Linked DNA regions of Homo sapiens. The protein of the gene in region 7 purifies or fractionates together with the protein of the main gene of each other region. This does not show direct contact. Each region holds a gene or a part of one and is shown on either strand. Other genes may lie near its edges. The genes, in order: TXN, LONP1, RBX1, SYNPO, NDRG2, CEP72 and FBXO11.

Region 1 (3,500 bases), on a different chromosome or scaffold from region 7:
AAAAGAGGACTGGGAAAGAAATATAGAACCACTCAGCACCTAAGCAGCAAAAGCTACACAGGACAGCAAGCGAGCAGGCAGGACTGTTGATAACCAAATCACGGAAACCAACGGAGAATTCTCAAGGGGAAGAAAGGCCAGCTACAAACACTATGACGACCTCTAGGATGGTGGGTGGCACTACTGTTGAGGAGTTCTTTCTAGGTAATCTTTACTTTTTCTTTTAATGCTGGACACCTGCTGAGCATGAAAGTACAGGTTCCAGTAAGAGGCACAAGGACAGTAATGGCTGGAATAAAAATGGTGAATGTTTATTGAATGCATACTATTGAAAACTCACTCCAAGTAAGGGTCAGAGGGAGGTTACCATTTATAAAATAAGTATCATAACCCTGTTGGCTGTCAGAGAAATAAGGTTGGTCTATCATTTTCAAAAGGGCTACTACTCATACTTTTCTATCAATCTATGGAGGCAAAGTTAAAGTTCCTCAGTTTGTCAGAGGGTCACTTCAAGGTTTTAAAAGACACTTTCAGGCCAGGCACGGTAGCTCATGCCTCTAATCCCAGCACTTTGGGAGGCCAAGACGGGTGGATCACTTGAGGTGAGGAGTTCGAGACCAGCCTGGCCAACATGGCAAAATGCTGTCTCTACTAAAAAGTTGAAATTTAGCCTGGTGTGGTAGCGGCTGCCTGTAGTCCCAGCTACTCAGGAGGCTGAGGCAGAAGAATCGCTTGAACCCGGGAGGTGGAGGTTGCAGTGAGCAGAGATGGTACCACTGCACTCCAGCCTGGGTGACAGAGTGAGACTCTGTCTCAAAAAAAAAAAAAAAAAAGATACATTCAGGGTGATCAGGGTGCACCAAGCAGACATGAAGGAGGAGCTCTGTCATACGGAAGTCCTCGAGTGCTTTGCACACCTATAGTAATGCACCATATAACATTTAGATCGACAACAGATTGCATATATGTGGTGGTCCCATAAGATTATAATGAAGTTGAAAAATTCCTCTCACCTAGTGATGGGTTAATGTCATAGCCCATCGCATTAGCTGGTGCAAACAAATCTGCGCTGCAATTACATACAAAGTATACCACTACAGACTGCTTTACCTGCGGAATAGCCATTCTTTTGTTCCTTTACTTTCTTAATAAACTTGCTTTCACTTAAAAAAGCATATCACTACAATTATGGACAGTATATACTACTTGATAATAAACACCCACGTTACTGGTTTTTGTATTTACTTTAATTTCATTATTAATTTAGAGTGTACTCCTACTTATTTTTTTAAAAAGACAGTTACTATACAACAGGCTCAGGCAGGCCCTTCAGGAAGCATTCCAGGAGAAGGCACTGTTATCATAGGAGATGAAAGGTCCATGCATGTTACTGTCCCTGAAGACCTTTCTGTGAGACAAGATGTGGGGATGGGAGACAGTGATACTGATGATCCTGACCCTGTGTTGGTCTAGGCTAATGTATGTGTTTGAATCTTAGTTTGTAACAAAAAGTTTAAAAAGTCTTTTTAAAAAAAGCTTATAGACTAAGGATATAAAGAAAATATTTTTGTAGAGCTGTACAATGCATTCGTGTTTTAAGCTAAGTGTTATTACAAGAGTTAAAGAGTTAAAAAAATAAAAAAACTATAAAGTAAAAAAGTTACAATAAATTTATTGCTGAAAAAAGAAATTTTAAAAATAAAATTTGTAAGCATACAGTGTTTATAACGTCTACAGGTTCTAGGCCTTCACATTCACTCACCACCCACTCACTGACTCGCCCAGAGCACCTCTCAGTCCTGCAAGTCCCGTTTATGGCAAGTACCTTATAAAGGCATACCATTTTTTAATCTTTCATATCATGTTTTCACCATACCTTTTCTATGTTTAGATACACAAATACTTACTGTTGTGTTATAACTGCCTACAGTATTCAGTACAGTAACATGCCTTACCTGTTTGTGGCCTAGGAGCAACAGGCTTTACCACATAGCCTAGGTGTACAGGAGGCTATGCCATCTAGGTTGTGTAAGTACACTCTATGTGTGCACAACAAAATTGCCTAACATTTCTCAGAAAGTATCCTCATCATTAAGTGATGCATGACTGTACTTCCTAAAGGCAGTAAGAAGACCTGTCCTCAGTACAGTATGGTGCATTGGTCTGCCTCAAGAGACTGACTTTACCTTCTGTGCTGCAGTGCCATTACCTGTTCAATGAGGGTGCTAATAAAAAATACTCGTATAGTTATCGTGAGGATTAAATGACATAGTGCATGCAAAGGGCTTATCATGGCATCTGGCACCTATTATTGCTTTCAAATAAAAATCAAGGCCGGGCGTGGTGGATAATCCCAGCACTTTGGGAGGCCGAGGTGGGTGGATCACCTGAAGTCAGGAGTTCGAGACCAGCCTGACCAACATGGTGAAACCCCGTCTCTACTGGGGTTTTAATTTTGTAAAAATACAAAATTAGCCAGGCATGGTGGTGCATGCCTGTAATCCCAGCTACCCAGGAGGCTGAGACAGAGGATTGCTTAAACCCGGGAGGCAGAGGTTGCAGTGAGCCGAGATCATGCCACTGCACTCCACCCCAGGTGACAGAGTGAACTCCATCTCAAAAAAAAAAAAAAAAAAAAAAAAAAAAAAAAAATCAAGTTGCTATCTGATAGGATCAGTGGCAGTTAGAATTTCTCTATTCCAGGTGCAATTTTCCCCTAGCTAAATTGACCTTAATAAGACTAAGTTTGATTAAAACAAGGGATAAGGATTTTTCACAAAAATGCAATTACACTCTTTTTAAAAAAAAAAAAACAACTCTGGGACACATCTAGAATAGTAACTTAACAACCATATCACATTCATCATTCATTCATTCCACACCTATACTACATGCAAGGCAGGTGTGCTAGGTGAAGGGGCAACCAACGTGAATTAAGACAGGGTCTCTGATCCTAGGAATCTACTGAGACTAATGGTAAAGGACAGACATAAAGATCATTATAATAATTGCCAAGATTCACTGGGTACTTAGGGCACACAAGGCGGTAAGTGGAGAAGGGGTGAAGCTCATGACAAGGAGTTAGTCAGGTAGGAAAGGAAAGGACAGGCCAGATGGAGAAGACAGCACAAGCCAAGGCAGGGGTTGCCCAAGGCACAGAGTCAAAAACTGGCTAAGAATACACAATCTGGGGTTGTTGCGCCCTCCCATGTTTAGAGAGCACTGCCATATGCCTGTTTTAAGTGACCCTTCACCCTTTATTGGATATTCCATGTTTGCTCAATGAATAAGCAACCTTGGGAGGTTGATGGGGCAGGTCTTAAGGCTCAAGGAAGAGGAGTGACTGGCCTAAGCAGATGCTAGTGAGCCAGGACTGGAAGCCAGGTCCAGCGCCTCTGTTGCCACACTGCACCCTTCCCCCATCGCCTTTCCTTCTCCACTAGGGCTAAGTGAAAATGCTCACATATCTGTAAAGGGCCCCGAAGTGATACCTCCTCAAC
Region 2 (2,406 bases), on a different chromosome or scaffold from region 7:
GGATGTCTCCACAAACAGCGTGGAGCCTCCTGAAACAGGTGTGGAGCTGTGAACACGGGAGGCCTCGGAGCCCAGGCCGGTGCTCACTCCACCCCTCGGGGCCACTCTGACCGCTCCTGCCCCAGTTTAGCATCTTGGTGCCCCTGGGCAGGGGTTGGTGTCCCATCGTGAGCCAACGCTGGCCTCTACGTTTGCTGCGTTGCGGGTTCCTGGCTCTGTACGCCCCACAGGGCAGCCCCCAGCAGCTGCCAGCCACAGAGGACACGCCCAGGGCTACAAGGCCCAGCTGCCGCTGCCCTGCAGACAGACACAAGCCCTTCTCCAGCCCCTCCCGCACCATCCCCTTTGCCCTCTCGCCTCCTTTGTGCGTGGTGGCCCCAAGGCCCATCTGGATGAGCTTGTCCTTACCTGTAAGCCTATCAAAGTGGCACCCAAATCCATAAGGCCCATGGTGTGCTGCCACCCCCATGTGTCACAGCCTTCCCCTCCCTCAGCCCAGACCCCCTGGGCTCCCAGCACACCACCCCCCGCCAGAGGCCGTTCAGAGCCACCTGAGGCCCACTGCACAGGTGTACAAGGTGGGACCTGCTTGTTCTCGGGTAGAAATGGGAATGGCTTTGGGGTCTTCTCCCGCCACCACGCTCACCCATTGCGGTCCAGGCCAGCCCCATGACCACGCCGGGCGGTGTCACGTCATACATGCGCTCCACGGTGAACACGGGCTTCCCCACGAAGTCCTGCAGGTTCTCGGGCGTCACCTCCACGGACTCGGCCTCGCCGCTGACAATCTTGTAGGCCGATTTCCGTAACACCTGGGCGGTCAGGGCAACACAATGGGCACGGGAAGGTGGGGTGACAGGTGCGGGGTGGTGGGGTGACGGGCACAGAAAGGTGTGACGGGCGCGGGGTGGTGGGGTGATGGGCGCAGGAAAGTGGGATGATGGGCATGGAAAGGTGGGGTGATCAGCGTGGGATGGTGAGGTGGGCGGCAGGTGCCAGGAGGGCGGGCTGGCCGCTCACCTTCTCCACTTGCTTCTGCAGGTTGCGGACACCGCTCTCGCGGCAGTACTGCTTGATGAGCAGCGTCAGCACGTCCGATGACAGCTTGGCCTTGCTCTCATCCAAGCCACACAGGGCGCGAGCCTGGGGCACCAGGTAGCGCTGCAAGGGCAACCGTCAGGGTTGGGTCTGGAGGGACCTTGCCCACCAGCTCAGTCTAGAACCTGGGAGCCAATGCCTCTCCCATGGCCCCCAGACCCTGGCCTGGGAACGAGGTCCCTGATGGTGAAACCAGGGCCTGGACACCCCGCCCTGCCACCCACCATGCCCAGAGGCCCCAGGCCTTTGCTTGTGCTGCGTCCTCTGCTTGGATCCACTTCCTATCCCCCAATGGTATCTTAGATGCCGCTTCCTCCAGGAAGGCCTCCTGGTTGCCCCATGGGCTGGCCCCATACACAGACCCAGGGCCTGTAGGGTGGCTGACTGGTTACGTGGCTGCTGCCCTCAGCACATGAGGAAGGGGACTGGGTCAGGGGCTCCAGGGTCACCCACAGCCCCACACAATTCTTGCCACAGTTCTGAGCTCTAATGGCATGGGGGAGGGCATCTGTGAGACGGACAGAGCCATGCAAGCCACTCTACATCTGCCACTGATACTGGGGGGCACTCCTGATGCCCTGAGGGGTCCCCATGCCCCCCAGTCCTGTCCCCAGGAACTACAGGCCCGTCCCTTGGAGAAGTCAGGCTGGGAACTGGGCCCAGCAGTGGGCATTGAAGCCCCCAGGGGACACGAGGATGCTGGGAGGGCCTCAAGGGCAGGGACCAGTGCCCACCACTGGCTGTCAAAGGGCTCCTAGGGGAGAAATGCACTCAGCACCTTTGCAGAAAAAAAAACACATGAGAAATATGGGCCCCTGCATGCTCCTCACTGAAACCACTTCTCCTCCAAGCCTCATTCTGGGTGGGAGCCACAGGCCCCACTGCTTCCGGCTGCCAGAAACCTTCCCTACACTCTGGGCCAGGTGGGGGCCCCACCATGGGGCAGCCTGGAGGCCCCGGGAGACAGAGTGTGTGGCCTGACGGTGGTGGGCGGTGTTTTGGACAGTCCCAGGCCCTAAACCCTGCGCCCACTCGCGCCACCTGCAGCTGCTCGCAAGCGTCTGGTGTGTCTCTCACGGCCCCATCTGCTCCTCGGCCGCAGGTCCCACCTGTCTCTCCCGGGCCCAGGAGCTCCCAGAGGCACGGCCTCTGCAGGCTCTGGGGGGCGCCCCCTGCTCTGGGAAGGGGACAGCAGTGGGGAGGGGCTGGGCTTACCTCCGCAATGGCCAGCTTCTCCTGGGCCACGTAGCCCGACACGTTGATCATCTCCATACGGTCTCGCAGCGGCTCGGGGATGGTGTCCGTGAC
Region 3 (2,716 bases), on a different chromosome or scaffold from region 7:
TGCTGTAGGGCAGAGCCAATTACAAAGGCCCCCTGAAAACTATGAAAAGTCCTCTGCCTTGACATGTATTCCTGTTATGGTTCCCTGTAGAATGCAAGCTCCAAGGGCAGGAAGGACCGTCTCAAATGTTTTTATATTTTACACGGTACTTAGCATATATTTTGCTGAAGGGAGCCCAACAGTACCACTCAGATACTGAGTATTTGGCAGGTTTCTTAAAAACTGAATACGCATTGATAAGACTTCCAAATGTTTTACCAAAATAAATTATTGAATTTAAAGGCAAAATCACTGCACCAATAATGGATTTCTAAACATTTCACAAACAAAAGAATCCTATTTTTTGGTTTTTTTAAACCCAAGAATAGCCTAATAAAGACGTATTTAAATTAAGAAACTCCTTTCCCGTAAAAAATTCAGTAAAGAAAATGACCAATAATTCAAAATAAAGCAACGTGCAGGAAGATAAACACAGCAGTTCACAGAAAAGCGTAAGAGATATAAAAACATGAACAATTGCCCAATCTTACTGAAAATTCAAAAATGAAAATCGAATACTGATTGTCACCTATCAGAGTGGCTAAGATGGAAAAACTGTATAATGAAGCACTGGCAGGAAATGAAGAAAGGGGAGTTCTGCTTCACTGTTTGGAGGGAGTATAAATTAGTGTGTATTCTTAGAAATGGAAAACCTGACACTATTTATCAAAAACAAAAATATACATTCCTTTTTTTTTTTTTTTGAGACGAAGTTTTGCTCTTTTGCCCCGGCTGATGTGGCGTGATCTCAGCTCACTGAAACCTCTGGGCTCCCGGGTTCAAGAGATGATTCTCCTGCCTCAGCCTCCCAAATAGCTGGGATTATAGGCACCACCATGCCTGGCTAATTTTTGTATTTTTAGTAGAGAGGGGGTTTCACCATGTTGGCCAGGCTGGTCTTGAACTCCTGACCTCAGGTGATCCACCCACCTCAGCCTCCTAAAGTGCTAGGATGACAGGTGTGAGCAACTACACCTGGGCTTTTTTTTTTTTTTTTTTTTAAATTGGGTCTATTACCTAGGCTGGAGTGCAGTGGCATGATCTCAGCTTACTGCAACCTCCGCCTCCTGGGCTCAAGCGATCCTCCCACCTCAGCCTCCAGAGCAGCTGGGACTACAAGTGCATGGCACCACATCCAGCTAATTTTCTTTCTTTTTTTTTTTTTTGAGATAGGGTCTCACTCTGTCATTTAGACTGGAGTGCAGTGGCACGATCTCTGCTCACTGCAACCTCTGCCTCCCAGGCTCAAGTGATTCTCCTGCCTCAGCCTCTGGAGTAACTGGGATTCCAGGCATGCACCACTACCGCCCAGCTAATTTTTGTATTTTTTAAAGTAGAGACGGGGTTTTACCATGTGGGCCAGGCTGGTCTCAAACTCCTGACCTCAAATGATCCACCTGCCTCAACCTGCCAAAGTGCTGGGATTACAGGCATGAGCCATCAGGCATGGCCTAATTTACTATTTTTTGGTAGAGATGGGGTTTCAACATGTTACCAGGCTGGTCTCGAACTAGTGGACTCAAGCAATCTGCCCACCTTGGCCTCCTAAAGTGTTGGGATCACAGGTGTGAGCCACCAAGCCCAGCCATACTCTTTACCCATAAATTCCTCTTTTAGGAATTACTGCTCCAGATACAGCTACACATTTACACAAAGCTTCATGTATAAGGATGTTTCTCCCTTCACATTGCTTGCATCAGTGAAAAACTGGAAACACAAATGTCCACCAATAGGGACTGACTTTGTTTTTTGAGATGGAGTTTCGCTCTTGTTGGAGTGCGATGGTGCGATCTCAGCCCACCACAATCTCCGCCTCCTGGGTTCAAGTATTCTCCTGCCTCAGCCTCCCAAGTAGCTGGGATTACAGGTATGTGCCCCCACGCCCAGCTGATTTTGCATTTTTAGTAGAGACGGGGTTTCTCCATGTTGGCCAGGCTGGCCTTGAACACCCAACCTCAGGTGATCCGCCTGCCTCGGCCTCCCAAAGTGCTGGGATTACAGGCGTGAGCCACCGTGCCTGGCCAGGGACTGACTTTTTAAAAAATATAAAAAATGTTAAAAACATGCAAACAAATAAAAAAAGAAAAGAAAAAAGTTAAGGTACATTTACATAAAGAAATACTCTGCAACCATTAGAAATGAGGTAGTTTGTTATTTGTGGAAATGGAAAATCTCCAAAATGTACAAAATGAAAAAAAAAAAAAAGGTGAATTACTGTATAGGATACTCACTTTTATGTTAACAAAAATATATATATACACACAACCATGTAAATACCGGGACATATAAGAGATAGTCAGAAAATCTCCTAAGAAGCTGTCCTGTTGCTGATGGCTAGCTCCAGCAAGCCGGAGCAGGGGCCTACAGTGGGAAATTCATATTCTGTGGTATACCCTTTCAACCATTTAAATTTTTAAAAGTTTACCAGGTCATGTTTTATTTATATAACAATAAAATCTAATCAGGATAGCCATAAATGCTATATCAGAATTAATCACTGTGAAATAAACCAGTGAAATATGATAAGTGGATACAAGTCTAGCCCAAAGCTACCTGACATTAGGTAGTCCATGGAGCCTCATTAGGATGTAATTCTGGAAATATTTAAGAGTTCATAGATTATCACATTTTCTACTTTCACAGACCGTAGAAGGTTGGGAAACCTGCCGGGCACGGT
Region 4 (3,500 bases), on a different chromosome or scaffold from region 7:
GTGATTCTCCTGCCTCAGCCTCCCGAGTAGCTGGGACTACAGGCATGTGCCACCATGCCCGGCTAATTTTTGTATTTTTAGTAGAGATGGGGTTTCACCATGTAGGCCAGGCTGGTCTCGAACTCCTGACCTCAGGTGATCCACCCGCCTCGGCCTCCCAAAGTGCTGGGATTACAGGCGTGAGCCACCGTGCCCGGCCACCTGACTTGTTTATCACTCTAACAACAGCCCCTAGAACAGCACCTGTCATACAGTGGCACTCGGTAGATATTGCTGAATGCACAAATGAACCCCCAGAATATTTTCTGTGTGCCTTCCTTAGGGCCCTTTATACTTTCAGAATTATAGCATAGGAATGTGCTCTAATTTTTTTAAACAAAAATGTTTTAATAAACCACCGTCTGCTTTTTTTAATTTGTATTTATTTATTTTTTTGAGACAGTACCTTACTCTGTCACCCAGGCTGGAGTGCAATGATGAGATCTCAGCTCATTGCAGCCTCGACATCCTGGGATCAAGTGATTCTCCTGCCTCAGCTCCCCAAGTAGCTGGGACTACAGATGTATGCCACCATGCTCAGCTAATTTTTGTATTTTTTTTTGTAGAGACAGGGTTTCACCATGTTGCTTAGGCTGGTCTCAAACTCAGGTGGGCGCAAGTGATCCGCCCACCTCAGTCTCTCAAAGTGCTGGGATTACAGGCATGTGCTTTGATTTTATAAAGAGACGCCACTAATATTTCCCCTTTTTAGGGTAGGTAATACATTCACATAGTCTAAAAATTTATTTATTCATTCATTTTTATTTTATTTTTACTTTTCTGAGACAGGGTCTTGCTCTGTTGCCCAGGCTGGCATGCAGTGGCACCATCATAGCTCACTGCAGCCTCAACCTCCTGGGCTCAAGTCATCCTCCCACCTCGGCCTCCCAAATATCTGGACTATCGGTGTGCGCCACCACACTTAGCCAATTTTTTTTTTTTTTTGTATTTTTTGTAGAGAAGGGGTCTCCCTGTGTTGCCCAGGCTGGTCTCAAACTCCTGGGCCCAAGTGATACTCTGGCCTTGGCTTCCTAAAATGCTGAGATTATAGGCATGAGCCACTATACCTGGCCCTAAAAATTAAAACATAAAAAGGTATACAGTAAAAAGTGTCACCCCATCCCTGATTACTCTGTATCACAATCAGTTTCTTCTATCTCCTCCCAGGATTTCTTCCTAGTTTTACTTAAATACTCATTTTAAAATTCACATCTTTTAACACTAGAAAAGTAACAAATTGAGCTAGTTTCACCAATGACTACTGTAGAACATTGCATTCTTTTATTTTATCTGCACAAGACCACAATGAGACAAGCATTGCTTGCCTGTGTTTTACAGAAGAAGAAACGGAGGTTCAGAGATATATAAGGAACTGCCCCAAGGTTGCAAAGCCAAGGGTGACAAAGCTGGAGTCAGAACTGTTCTTTCTGGGGTCTCTAGTCCATGCTCAAGTGGTCTACTCATCCCAAAAGGTCTCTTTGGGACATAAGGGGCAGGAACAAGGTCATCATGGGTCGGGGTTCAGTCTGGGATTTGAGGTCCTGAGATCAGGCTGAGTTCAGTCCCCTATTAATCTATAAGATCACCATAGGCAACCATTTCTCTTTCTATCCCCAGTGGCCAGCTGGCACACAGTTGATGCTCAATTTATAATTGTTGAATAATAAATGAACAAATGCTGCATGAACAAATGCATTGACAGACAGGTGGATGGATCAGCCTGTGACCAGCAACATCAGTGGCTAAGAAAATTCCTCCCTCCATTGCCCCTCTCCTCCCTACTGTGGGAAGCTAATTAGTTCTTGAGGAATCTGACCCTGCCCTCCCCTCCCTTGCCCTCATTAGCACTGGCCATGGCATGCTGAGTCTGTCTCCAGGGACAGTCTTTCCAGGCATCTTGCCAGCGAGGCTCTGAATTCATGGACTCTCAGAGCTGGAAGAATTCTGACAGAGGAGGTATTTCATCACCACCCTGTTTTATAGGTGGGAAACAGAGATCCAGAGAGTAGCCCAGGGTAGAGCCGGGTGACCCCACATGGGACCCGCAGGGAGGCCCACACAGAGCAAAGAAGCTGTGACCAGCAGCGTCACAGCAGCTCCACTGGGGCAGCCACAGGTTTTCTGGCCCCAACCTCCTTCTTCCCTCCTCCATCGAACCTGGTTTTCCCCTAACCTATTAGAAACAGTGAAAGCACACAGCCTATCCCACCCACCCATGATATTACTCCCCCCGAGTAGGACTCTTCTCCTGCCTGGATCACCCTATCTATTAAAGATGTCTATTAGCCATCTATTAGCCAGGCTGCTCCCCTGGGAGGAGCCTAAGGGATGGGGTGCCAGCCACACTGGAGGGCTCTGAGAGGTTGCTCAGCTCATGCTGTGTCTGTCTCCCCTGCTCTGCTTAGAAACCAGGCCTCCTGGCCTGAATCCAAGCTCTGCCATTTGCTAGCCGTGTGACCTTGGCAAGTTACTGTACCTCTCAGAGCCACAGTCTCCTTAACTTGACATGAGTGTTGGGAGGCCACAAAGAGATCATGAAAATGCCAAGGCCTGACTGCCATGAAGCCCAGGTGGACAGACAGAGGGCTCATGCTATCCTGGCATAAGCTGGCAATTGGTCACCCCATTCCACTCCCTGGAAAAGGTCAGATACTCTTCTAGCACAGGGGATTGACTGAAGGTCAAATAGCAGGAGATTCCAGAGCTACACGGAGGCAGAGCTTACTGCCCCAAAACACAGAACCTCGGAATCTCAGAGGTGGCTGTCACCAAGTCCAATTCCCACACAATTCTTGCATCTTCAAAACAACATGCTGAGTGTGCAAGTCTCTGCTGACATACTCAGGTGACGAGCTCACTCCCCCGGGAGGTGTCTTCCACTAATTAACATTCCTCAGCTAGAAAGTTCCTCCTTACATTCACTTCCAATCACTTTTTTTTTTTTTTTTTTCTGAGACAGGGTCTTGCTCTGTCGCTGGAGGGCAGTGGCACCATCATGGTTCACTGTAGCCTCAACCTTCCAGGATCAAGTAATCCTCCCACCTCAGCCTCCTGAGTAACTGGGACTATAGGCATATGCCACTATGCCTGGCTAATTTTTGTATTTTTTGTAGAGACAGGATTTCACTATGTTGCCCAGGCTGATCTTGAACTCCTGAGCTCAAGTGATCCACCCACCTCAGCCTCCCAAAGTGCTGGGATTACAGGCGTGAGCCACCACGTCCAGCCATCATCCGCTTTCTTGATGTGGTTCTGCCTCCCCAGGCTGCACAGAGAAAAAGTCTTCTCAGCCGGGCGCGGTGGCTCGCGCCTGTAATCCTAGCATTTTGGGGGGCCAAGGCAGGTGGATCACGAGGTCAGGAGTTCGAGACCAGCCTGGCCAATATGGTGAAACCCCATCTCTACTAAAAATACAAAAATTAGCCAAGCGTGGTGGCGGGCGCCTGTAATCCCAGCTACTT
Region 5 (2,895 bases), on a different chromosome or scaffold from region 7:
AGCTGGGACTACAGGTGTGCACCATCAAGCCCAGCTAATTTTTGTATTTTTTGCAGAGACGGGGTTTCACCATGTTCCCCAGGCTGGTCACAAACTTCTGAGCTCAAGTGGTCTGCCCACCTCAGCTTCTCAAGTGTGTTGGGATCACAGATGCGAGCCACCTTGCCCAGCCTCTTCAATTCTTTCTTAAAGGTGGTGATGTTGGTGGTATCTCTGAAATCCTGTGGCCTTTCTCAGTTACCCATAGTTGATAAGGAAGTCTCCTAAGATCTAAATGGTTCCTCTCTCCCAGGCTTAAAAATACTACAATATCAAGGCAACACCGTTGTATTGGAAAAGAGCCAGTTTCTATGTGGTCATATTTTGTGAAGTGCCTATGCCACAAAGGCCCTCTCCCAGGGTTTATATCACTTTGAGAAGAGAATATGAGACGTGGACAGGGAGAAGATAGGAAGAGGAGCATGATGCAGGCACACCTAGACAAAGAATAATAACGGTACTCAGATTCCTCTACAGTTTATTGTTATAGCAGAAGTTGTGGGAGACGGGAGGGCACCCTCCACACATACTACAGTGTGGTCAGAGCCCCAGGGTAGCCCTTTCCACCCTATGCCAAGCCCCAAGCAGCCCAGCCCAAGCTTAGCTCCCTCCCCAGTCCCACTCTAGATGCACACTGAGCTACCAAAGTTAGTGCAGCCAAACGGCCCCAGGCCCCTTCCTGTTGCCCCAGCACCAATCCTTCCCCACACTCGTTCACTGCCCGCCAACTCCCATTCCAACTTCCTTTTTACACTGGATGTTTCTATCACATCCTGAGGACCACTAACCCACCAGCAAGTCTCCCCCTGACACACATTCACGTAGGTCCATACCCTTCAGAGTCCTAAAGGGTTAATGAGAAGCCACCTCAGCTTTGGTGAATGGAGCCCCAGCCCCAAATCCCCTCCCCTTGCAAATATGGGACAAGTAGGGAGAGTCTGATGGAGGCACCAGGACAACTACAACAACCTCTTACCCCTCAGCTATAGACACCTAGATCAGGACAGAGGATGCATATGCCCTCTCCACCTTAACATCAAAATGGGGGAGGAGGAGAATTTAGGGGTCTGGGTCCCTAAGAGATATTAGGACATCTCTTCCAGGAGCTGGGGGGAATCACGGGTTAAAGGTCAAGGTTAGGGTAGCAATCAAAGATCAAGGTCATCTCCCCGCATGATCTGCCCTTTTTCCCTTGCTTACGGTGGCCCAATGCCCCTTCAGCACCTCCCAGGTTAGCTCTGGGGGAGGTGAGGGCTGGGTCCCACTCTAGGGCAACAAGGGCCATTCAACAGGAGACCTCCATGGTGTGCCCCGGGGGCCCCGAAGAAAGAGTTCCAGACTCGCTGCTCTGGGACAGGGTGCGAGAGCGGGACCGGTTGCCATCAACGGATGCTGCACTGGTCAGAGAGGCTGTACGAGACCGGGACAGGCGAGTCATGCAGGATGAGGCCACTGTGGAGACAGCACGATGCACAAGCAGTCAGAGAGGAAGTGGGGAAGGGGGGCTGGCGACTCAGGGTGTGGTCCTTGGATTATGGACTAGTTATAACTAAGCCAGGGGATCAACGAGCTCGATTGGGCAGATAGCGGTGAGTCCAGGCATTCACCTAAAACGGTTCCACCCCGTCAGTGCCTATCTCTCCTCTAGTGCAGCAAGCTCTTGTCCCGATACTCACTGTAGCCCATGCCTTGCAGGAAGTACTTGAAGGCCTCGGTCAGCTTGCCTGGCTGCGGAAGTAAGAAGAGGCGAGGGAGACGGTGAGATGAGGTTAGAGGAAGAGCTGGAGCCTGAGGCTGCGGCACTGTGGGGCCGGGTGTGTGGCAAAGGGCAGAGCCCAGTGCCACCGGTATCCTATGTCCCTTCCCCATCCCATGGACGGCAGCGGCACTCACCTGAGTCAGCTGGGGCTGACCTCCGGAGTCAGCCATCTGTTCAGGAGAGCACCACCCAGAAAAAGTGAAACACACATAAATGAGCCATGCAGAGAGGTGGAAAGGGTCTCTCTTCCCTAGCTTCTTCACTCTAGCCCCTTTGTTTTGTTCTTCGTTCACCCCATTTGCTCCCATGCCGGGCCCTGGAGGCTTAGCAGCTGCATGTAGAGAGGATATATGACTGTGGACGGGGGCCCAGGAACAGGTTACTGACCTTGAGGAACGAGGTCTGGGTGGGGTCCAGTTTTGAGTTACATTCCACCTGGAGTAAGCAGGAGGCTGAATGAATGAGGTCACGCCCACTGTGGCGCCTCCCCCGTAAGGGACCCAGGAACCCAGACCCCAGTCCCTTTTCTATCAGCTCCCTACCCAGTTCCTCCTTACCAGGAATCAAATTCTTAGTGCCCCAAAGTTGATCTCCCTGTGCCAAACAGGACATCCCCTTGGCAAGATACTCTTCTGACCACCACTTTAGGACCCCAACCCTCCTCCCTCACTCACCCCAAAATTCCCTACTAACCACTGCATCTTCATGAGGTGCTTGGTCTCCTACCACCAGCATCACAGGACACCTAAAGACACAGTGTTGGGGAGAAGGCAGTGAGCCCCTGGCACTCCCTCACTGGCCTCTGCCTAGGAGTGCAGCTGGAAAAATATCTGGCTCCAAAGAGGAAAGACACTTCTGTGTCTCCCTGCTGATGCCACCAAGAGGATTCAAAGGGGGAAGACCTAGAGGGAAGTGATTTACCAAATAGGATGGGGTGGGACATGACAAGGAAGTTCCCTGGCAAAAGATTCTCCTTCTTCTAAGGGACACAAGCTCCTAGGGAAGATCCAGGGAGACAGGCAATGCATTATCTCTTAAAGTCTTACCTGAGGGTGATATCACCTCCACGCTCAAAGTTCAGGTCTCGGCGGCTAGAA
Region 6 (3,500 bases), on a different chromosome or scaffold from region 7:
CTGGACAGAACCCCACCAGGACTGGGCCAAATCCCGGCGCTGGACAGAACCCCACCAGGACTGGGTCAAATCCCGGCACTGGATAGAACCCCACCAGGACTGGGCCAAATCCCGGCACTGGATAGAACCCCACCAGGACTGGGTCAAATCCCGGCACTGGACAGAACCCCACCAGGACTGGTCTAAATCCCGGCACTGGACAGAACCCCACCAGGACTGGGCCAAATCCCGGCACTGGACAGAACCCCACCAGGACTGGGTCAAATCCCGGCACTGGACAGAACCCCACCAGGACTGGGCCAAATCCCGGCGCTGGACAGAACCCCACCAGGACTGGGCCAAATCCCGGCGCTGGACAGAACCCCACCAGGACTGGGCCAAATCCCGGCACTGGACAGAACCCCACCAGGACTGGGTCAAATCCCAGCACTGGACAGAACCCCACCAGGACTGGTCTAAATCCCGGCACTGGACAGCACCCCACCAGGACTGGGTCAAATCCCGACACTGGACAGAACCCCACCAGGACTGGGTCAAATCCCAGCACTGGACAGAACCCCACCAGGACTGGTCTAAATCCCGGCACTGGACAGCACCCCACCAGGACTGGGTCAAATCCCGACACTGGACAGAACCCCACCAGGACTGGTCCAAATCCCGGCGCTGGACAGAACCCCACCAGGACTGGGCCAAATCCCGGCGCTGGACAGAACCCCACCAGGACTGGTCTAAATCCCGGCACTGGACAGAACCCCACCAGGACTGGGCCAAATCCCGGCACTGGACAGAACCCCACTAGGACTGGGTCAAATCCCAGCACTGGACAGAACCCCACCAGGACTGGGCCAAATCCCGGCGCTGGACAGAACCCCACCAGGACTGGGCCAAATCCCGGCGCTGGACAGAACCCCACCAGGACTGGGCCAAATCCCGGCACTGGACAGAACCCCACCAGGACTGGGTCAAATCCAGCACTGGACAGAACCCCACCAGGACTGGTCTAAATCCCGGCACTGGACAGAACCCCACCAGGACTGGGCCAAATCCCGGCACTGGACAGAACCCCACCAGGACTGGTCTAAATCCCGGCACTGGACAGCACCCCACCAGGACTGGGTCAAATCCAGCACTGGACAGAACCCCACCAGGACTGGTCTAAATCCCGGCACTGGACAGAACCCCACCAGGACTGGGCCAAATCCCGGCACTGGACAGAACCCCACCAGGACTGGTCCAAATCCCGGCACTGGACAGAACCCCACCAGAACTGGTCCAAATCCCGGCACTGGACAGAACCCCACCAGGACTGGTCCAAATCCCGGCGCTGGACAGAACCCCACCAGGACTGGTCCAAATCCCGGCGCTGGACAGAACCCCACCAGGACTGGTCCAAATCCCGGCGCTGGACAGAACCCCACCAGGACTGGGCCAAATCCCGGCGCTGGACAGAACCCCACCAGGACTGGGTCAAATCCCGGCACTGGATAGAACCCCACCAGGACTGGGCCAAATCCCGGCACTGGACAGAACCCCACCAGGACTGGGTCAAATCCCGGCACTGGACAGAACCCCACCAGGACTGGTCTAAATCCCGGCACTGGACAGAACCCCACCAGGACTGGGCCAAATCCCGGCACTGGACAGAACCCCACCAGGACTGGGTCAAATCCCGGCACTGGACAGAACCCCACCAGGACTGGGCCAAATCCCGGCGCTGGACAGAACCCCACCAGGACTGGGCCAAATCCCGGCGCTGGACAGAACCCCACCAGGACTGGGCCAAATCCCGGCGCTGGACAGAACCCCACCAGGACTGGGTCAAATCCAGCACTGGACAGAACCCCACCAGGACTGGGTCAAATCCCGGCACTGGACAGAACCCCACCAGGACTGGGCCAAATCCCGGCACTGGACAGAACCCCACCAGGACTGGTCTAAATCCCGGCACTGGACAGAACCCCACCAGGACTGGGTCAAATCCCGGCACTGGACAGAACCCCACCAGGACTGGGCCAAATCCCGGCACTGGATAGAACCCCACCAGGACTGGGTCAAATCCCGGCACTGGACAGAACCCCACCAGGACTGGTCTAAATCCCGGCACTGGACAGAACCCCACCAGGACTGGGCCAAATCCCGGCACTGGACAGAACCCCACCAGGACTGGGTCAAATCCCGGCACTGGACAGAACCCCACCAGGACTGGGCCAAATCCCGGCGCTGGACAGAACCCCACCAGGACTGGGCCAAATCCCGGCGCTGGACAGAACCCCACCAGGACTGGGCCAAATCCCGGCACTGGACAGAACCCCACCAGGACTGGGTCAAATCCCGGCACTGGACAGAACCCCACCAGGACTGGGCCAAATCCCGGCACTGGACAGAACCCCACCAGGACTGGGTCAAATCCCGGCACTGGACAGAACCCCACCAGGACTTGGGTCAAATCCCGGCACTGGACAGAACCCCACCAGGACTGGGCCAAATCCCGGCACTGGACAGAACCCCACCAGGACTGGGTCAAATCCCGGCACTGGACAGAACCCCACCAGGACTGGGCCAAATCCCGGCGCTGGACAGAACCCCACCAGGACTGGGCCAAATCCCGGCGCTGGACAGAACCCCACCAGGACTGGGCCAAATCCCGGCGCTGGACAGAACCCCACCAGGACTGGGCCAAATCCCGGCACTGGACAGAACCCCACCAGGACTGGGTCAAATCCCAGCACTGGACAGAACCCCACCAGGACTGGTCTAAATCCCGGCACTGGACAGCACCCCACCAGGACTGGGTCAAATCCCGACACTGGACAGAACCCCACCAGGACTGGGTCAAATCCCAGCACTGGACAGAACCCCACCAGGACTGGTCTAAATCCCGGCACTGGACAGCACCCCACCAGGACTGGGTCAAATCCCGACACTGGACAGAACCCCACCAGGACTGGGCCAAATCCCGGCGCTGGACAGAACCCCACCAGGACTGGGCCAAATCCCGGCGCTGGACAGAACCCCACCAGGACTGGGCCAAATCCCGGCACTGGACAGAACCCCACCAGGACTGGGCCAAATCCCGGCACTGGACAGAACCCCACCAGGACTGAGTCAAATCCCGGCACTGGACAGAACCCCACCAGGACTGGGCCAAATCCCGGCACTGGACAGAACCCCACCAGGACTGGGTCAAATCCCGGCACTGGACAGAACCCCACCAGGACTGGGCCAAATCCCGGCACTGGACAGAACCCCACCAGGACTGGGCCAAATCCCGGCACTGGACAGAACCCCACCAGGACTGGTCCAAATCCCGGCACTGGACAGAACCCCACCAGGACTGGTCCAAATCCCGGCACTGGACAGAACCCCACCAGGACTGGGTCAAATCCCGGCACTGGACAGAATCCCACCAGGACTGGTCCAAATCCCGGCACTGGACAGAACCCCACTAGGATTGGTTCAAAAATTAAAGTTCTGGAAGATTCTGTTCTGCTATGTGATTA
Region 7 (3,500 bases):
AAGTGCTGGGATTATAGGCGTGAGCCACTTCGCCTAGCCTAAAAAGATAATTTTCAGTAAAAATACTTTGAACTTAATTTGTCCTATATCTTCAGTCCATTTATATCCTATCAAGCACAATGAAATCTTCAAACTGGAGTAATGGCTAACTATTATCATTTCTGGTACAGTGAGCAATGCTGTTTTGTTCTGCTGCTCTTCATTCTCATTTCTCCTTTGTAATTTTTCTCTTAAATGTAAGGTGTGGGCCGGGCACAGTGGCCCATGCCTGTAATCCCAGCACTTTGGGAGGCCCAGGCAGGAGGATCACCTGAGGTCAGGAGTTCAAGACCAGCCTAGCCAACATGGTGAAACCCTGTCTCTACTAAAAATACAAAAAATAGCTGGGCATGGTGGGAGGTGCCTGTAATCCCAGCTACTCAGGAGGCTGAGGCAGGAGAATTGCTTGAACCCGGGAGGCAGAGGTTGCAGTGAGTCAAGATTGTGCCACTGCACTCTAGCCTGGGCAACAAGAACGAAACTCCGTCAAAAACAACAACAAAAACATATATATATATGGTGCACCTTTTGTGCATCATAAAAGTAATACATATAACCGTTGTAAAACAAAGAAGTGTAAAGAACTATAGTTTCAATATATTAACTATTAACAGTCTGCCATATTTGCTTCCACTCATTTTATCTACAGATCATTTATTATAGTTGTGATTATATAGCATATACAATTTTGTACTCTGTTCTTTTCTTTAAAAAACAGGGTCTCCGTCTGCCGCCCAGGCTGCAGTGCAGTGGCACGATCACGGCTTTCTGCAGCCTTGACTTCCTGGGCTCAAATGATCCTCCTGCCTCAGCCTCCGGAGTAGCTGGGACCACAGGCAGGAGCCACCACACCTGGCCTCTTTTCACTTTTTATAACAGCATTTTTTTCATCTTATTAAAAACCTGGGCTGGGTGCAATGGCTCATGCCTATAATCCCAGCACTTTGGGCGGCCGAGGTAGAAGGATCACTTGACCCCAGGAGTTCAAGATCAGACTGAGTAACAGAGTGAGACCCTTTGTCTCAAAAAAAAAAAAAAAAAAAAAATTAGCTGGGCATGGTGACACATGCCTGTGGTGCCAGCTACTCAGGAGGCTGAGGTGGGAGAATGGCTTGAGCCCAGAGGGTTGAGGCTGCAGTGAGCTAGGAGCGTGACACTGCACTCCAGCCTGGGTGACAGAGCAAGACCCTGTCTCTCAAAAAACAAATGAAAATCTCTTTGTAAAAATTACTATTAGTGGTTATATCACAACTCTCCAAGTACACATTACACAGTTTATGTAGTTCATTCCCTTAATTCTGGATATTTAGATTATTTATAATTTTTCTCATTATTAACTAGGCTGTTACGAAAAATCTGTACATAAAGCAAAAAAAACTTTTCAGAAGTAGAATTACTGGGTCAAAGGGCATGACCCAGTAATTACTGGGTCAAAGGGCATGAATTATTTAAAGATTCATGAATACAACTGTTTTCCAAAAGTGATATATAAAACCTACATTCTAATCTATCAGATTTAAAATTCATTAGCTATTTTAAATTACACTGTTATGTTTCTAAAAAGCTACTAAAAGAAAAACATTTCCCATAATCAATCAGTTGCTATTAACTGATAAACAGCAGATAAAAGACTTCATTTACTGATTTATAAATACCACCTGGACTGACAGCCCCCATTTGTAACTTGGAATTGATAAGCATTTTAATTTTGTTCCAACTAATTGTAACTACCAACTCACCGCACCGACTTTCCTACCATGTTTAGCATTTTGGGCAACAAATAACATATCTCAAGTTAATAAGGAATAGGTTTTTACTTACCACAAAATTGGATCATTAGCAAGTTCACTGAAGCGTTTACATACACAAGCTGCTCTACAAAGATCCTGTTCCAGCAAGTAAGAGAAGATTTTTAGAACCACTTCATCTGGCAGTTTCTCCTGAAGATACTGTTCAGCAGGTGCTGCTATAAAGAGATTAACATATAAACTATCATTCGAGCAATAACTTTCTCATTATTTAAAGAACACAGTTTTCATTTTATCTAATGAATAGCTTTTTTTTTTTGGATAATGGTCATTTTATAAGCATGTGGGTTTCATGGGTAACACATATTTATCTCTATCCTGAACTAACAAAAGTACTCCTTCTTTTAGGTATTATGTGCCATCTCAGAAATGGTTAAAATAAATACATAAAAAGCATTTTTATACAACAATAAAAGTCAGAGGGAGAGGTCAGGGTTCTAAAGTTTATTCTGTAATAATCACTTTCTGAATCCCAAAGGTAATACTCGAATACACTTAATTTTCATTTTTTGGTATCAAGCAAAATTAAAAAAAATTATTTTACCCTATTTGTTACTTTCCCACAGGAAATACCTGATAGATCTTGTGATTTTCCAGACACTCTTGCACGTTTTGCACGATGACCAAAGTTTTCTGTAGTTGAAGTTGAGGCGCCCTTCAAAAACAAAACAGAAACTAGTAAAGCAAATATTCTTATCATCCATAATCATTACTTCTAAAAAAGGATGACATTCCCTTTTTTGTTTCTTGAAAATTCTTTCATTACAAAAAGAAAAGCAACTACAGTTAAAGTTACCTCCATACTGTTCTTTGTGGGACACGCTGTTCTTTTCGGCAAAAGAGTTTTTCTACGAAGTTGGTATGGACTATTTTGTGCACCAGGACCTGATTCTTCTGCAACCATATCTGCAGGCACATCATCATCTGTTATAAACAAAAGCAATAAGAAAAATTATACCCTTTTTAAAAAAAGTTCTATGGATACAGAAAACTTTCTTAAAACTTCAAATTCGGGAGGGAGCAGATGTAAGTTTTATATGAAATTCCAACCAACTGGATAGCTATATGAAAGAAATGTTAGATTTCTATAAAATGTGGAAGATTTTTTTTTTTTTTGAGACAGAGTCTCGCTCTGTCGCCCAGGCTGGAGTGCAGTGGCGCAATCTCGGCTCACTGCAAGCTCCGCCTCCTGGGTTCACGCCTTTCTCCTGCCTCAGCCTCCCGAGTAGCTGGGACTACAGGCGCCCGCCACCACGCCCAGCTAATTTTTTGTATTTTTAGTAAAGATGGGGTTTCATCGTGGTAGCCAGGATGGTCTTGATCTCCTGACCTCGTGATCCACTCACCTCGGCCTCCCAAAGTGCTGGGATTACAGGCGTGAGCCACCACGCCCAGCCGTGGAAGACTTTTTTTTAAAAAAAGGTGAGGAGGATATCCACTTGCTGAGAGGAGTGGGAAGGGAACTGGTACTACATGGTTAGAGACCATATATGGTGAAGGCAGCTTGGCAAGGAGTGTGTCTATGAAGAGGAACGGCTCAATATAGTGCATGAGATACCAGGTAGGTTAAAAAGGGTGTCAGAGGGTAGTCTGGTGTATGAACATCTTTTTTTTTTTTTTTTGGAGATAGGGTCTCATTCTGTCACCCAGGCT

Evidence for each region.
Region 1: the proteins of FBXO11 (region 7) and TXN purify together in Homo sapiens (affinity purification with mass spectrometry; 2 studies listed by BioGRID and IntAct, with this or other methods). This does not show direct contact.
Region 2: the proteins of FBXO11 (region 7) and LONP1 purify together in Homo sapiens (co-immunoprecipitation; 2 studies listed by BioGRID and IntAct, with this or other methods). This does not show direct contact.
Region 3: the proteins of FBXO11 (region 7) and RBX1 purify together in Homo sapiens (co-immunoprecipitation; 4 studies listed by BioGRID and IntAct, with this or other methods). This does not show direct contact.
Region 4: the proteins of FBXO11 (region 7) and SYNPO purify together in Homo sapiens (co-immunoprecipitation; one large-scale study listed by IntAct). This does not show direct contact.
Region 5: the proteins of FBXO11 (region 7) and NDRG2 purify together in Homo sapiens (affinity purification with western blotting; one study listed by BioGRID). This does not show direct contact.
Region 6: the proteins of FBXO11 (region 7) and CEP72 purify together in Homo sapiens (co-immunoprecipitation; one large-scale study listed by IntAct). This does not show direct contact.

Annotation. Positions count from the first base shown.
Region 1 is NC_000009.12:110,246,508-110,250,007, forward strand, and holds part of TXN (thioredoxin), read right to left. Parts: intron 1-3,500. UniProt on the Homo sapiens protein: Participates in various redox reactions through the reversible oxidation of its active center dithiol to a disulfide and catalyzes dithiol-disulfide exchange reactions.
Region 2 is NC_000019.10:5,693,741-5,696,146, forward strand, and holds part of LONP1 (lon protease homolog, mitochondrial isoform 1 precursor), read right to left. Parts: coding exon 2,314-2,406; intron 1,162-2,313; coding exon 1,021-1,161; intron 813-1,020; coding exon 647-812; intron 30-646; coding exon 1-29. UniProt on the Homo sapiens protein: ATP-dependent serine protease that mediates the selective degradation of misfolded, unassembled or oxidatively damaged polypeptides as well as certain short-lived regulatory proteins in the mitochondrial matrix.
Region 3 is NC_000022.11:40,968,378-40,971,093, reverse strand, and holds part of RBX1 (E3 ubiquitin-protein ligase RBX1), read right to left. Parts: intron 1-2,716. UniProt on the Homo sapiens protein: E3 ubiquitin ligase component of multiple cullin-RING-based E3 ubiquitin-protein ligase (CRLs) complexes which mediate the ubiquitination and subsequent proteasomal degradation of target proteins, including proteins involved in cell cycle progression, signal transduction, transcription and transcription-coupled nucleotide excision repair.
Region 4 is NC_000005.10:150,643,660-150,647,159, reverse strand, and holds part of SYNPO (synaptopodin), read right to left. Parts: intron 1-3,500. UniProt on the Homo sapiens protein: Actin-associated protein that may play a role in modulating actin-based shape and motility of dendritic spines and renal podocyte foot processes.
Region 5 is NC_000014.9:21,016,272-21,019,166, forward strand, and holds the end of NDRG2 (protein NDRG2), read right to left. Parts: intron 2,890-2,895; coding exon 2,845-2,889; intron 2,544-2,844; coding exon 2,492-2,543; intron 2,393-2,491; coding exon of another isoform or gene 2,356-2,392; intron 2,251-2,355; coding exon of another isoform or gene 2,234-2,250; coding exon 2,186-2,233; intron 1,969-2,185; coding exon 1,933-1,968; intron 1,768-1,932; coding exon 1,716-1,767; intron 1,492-1,715; coding exon 1,325-1,491; 3' UTR 501-1,324; downstream 1-500. UniProt on the Homo sapiens protein: Contributes to the regulation of the Wnt signaling pathway. Down-regulates CTNNB1-mediated transcriptional activation of target genes, such as CCND1, and may thereby act as tumor suppressor. May be involved in dendritic cell and neuron differentiation.
Region 6 is NC_000005.10:629,340-632,839, reverse strand, and holds part of CEP72 (centrosomal protein of 72 kDa), read right to left. Parts: intron 1-3,500. UniProt on the Homo sapiens protein: Involved in the recruitment of key centrosomal proteins to the centrosome.
Region 7 is NC_000002.12:47,836,999-47,840,498, forward strand, and holds part of FBXO11 (F-box only protein 11), read right to left. Parts: intron 2,772-3,500; coding exon 2,644-2,771; intron 2,503-2,643; coding exon 2,421-2,502; intron 2,006-2,420; coding exon 1,861-2,005; intron 1-1,860. UniProt on the Homo sapiens protein: Substrate recognition component of a SCF (SKP1-CUL1-F-box protein) E3 ubiquitin-protein ligase complex which mediates the ubiquitination and subsequent proteasomal degradation of target proteins, such as DTL/CDT2, BCL6, SNAI1 and PRDM1/BLIMP1.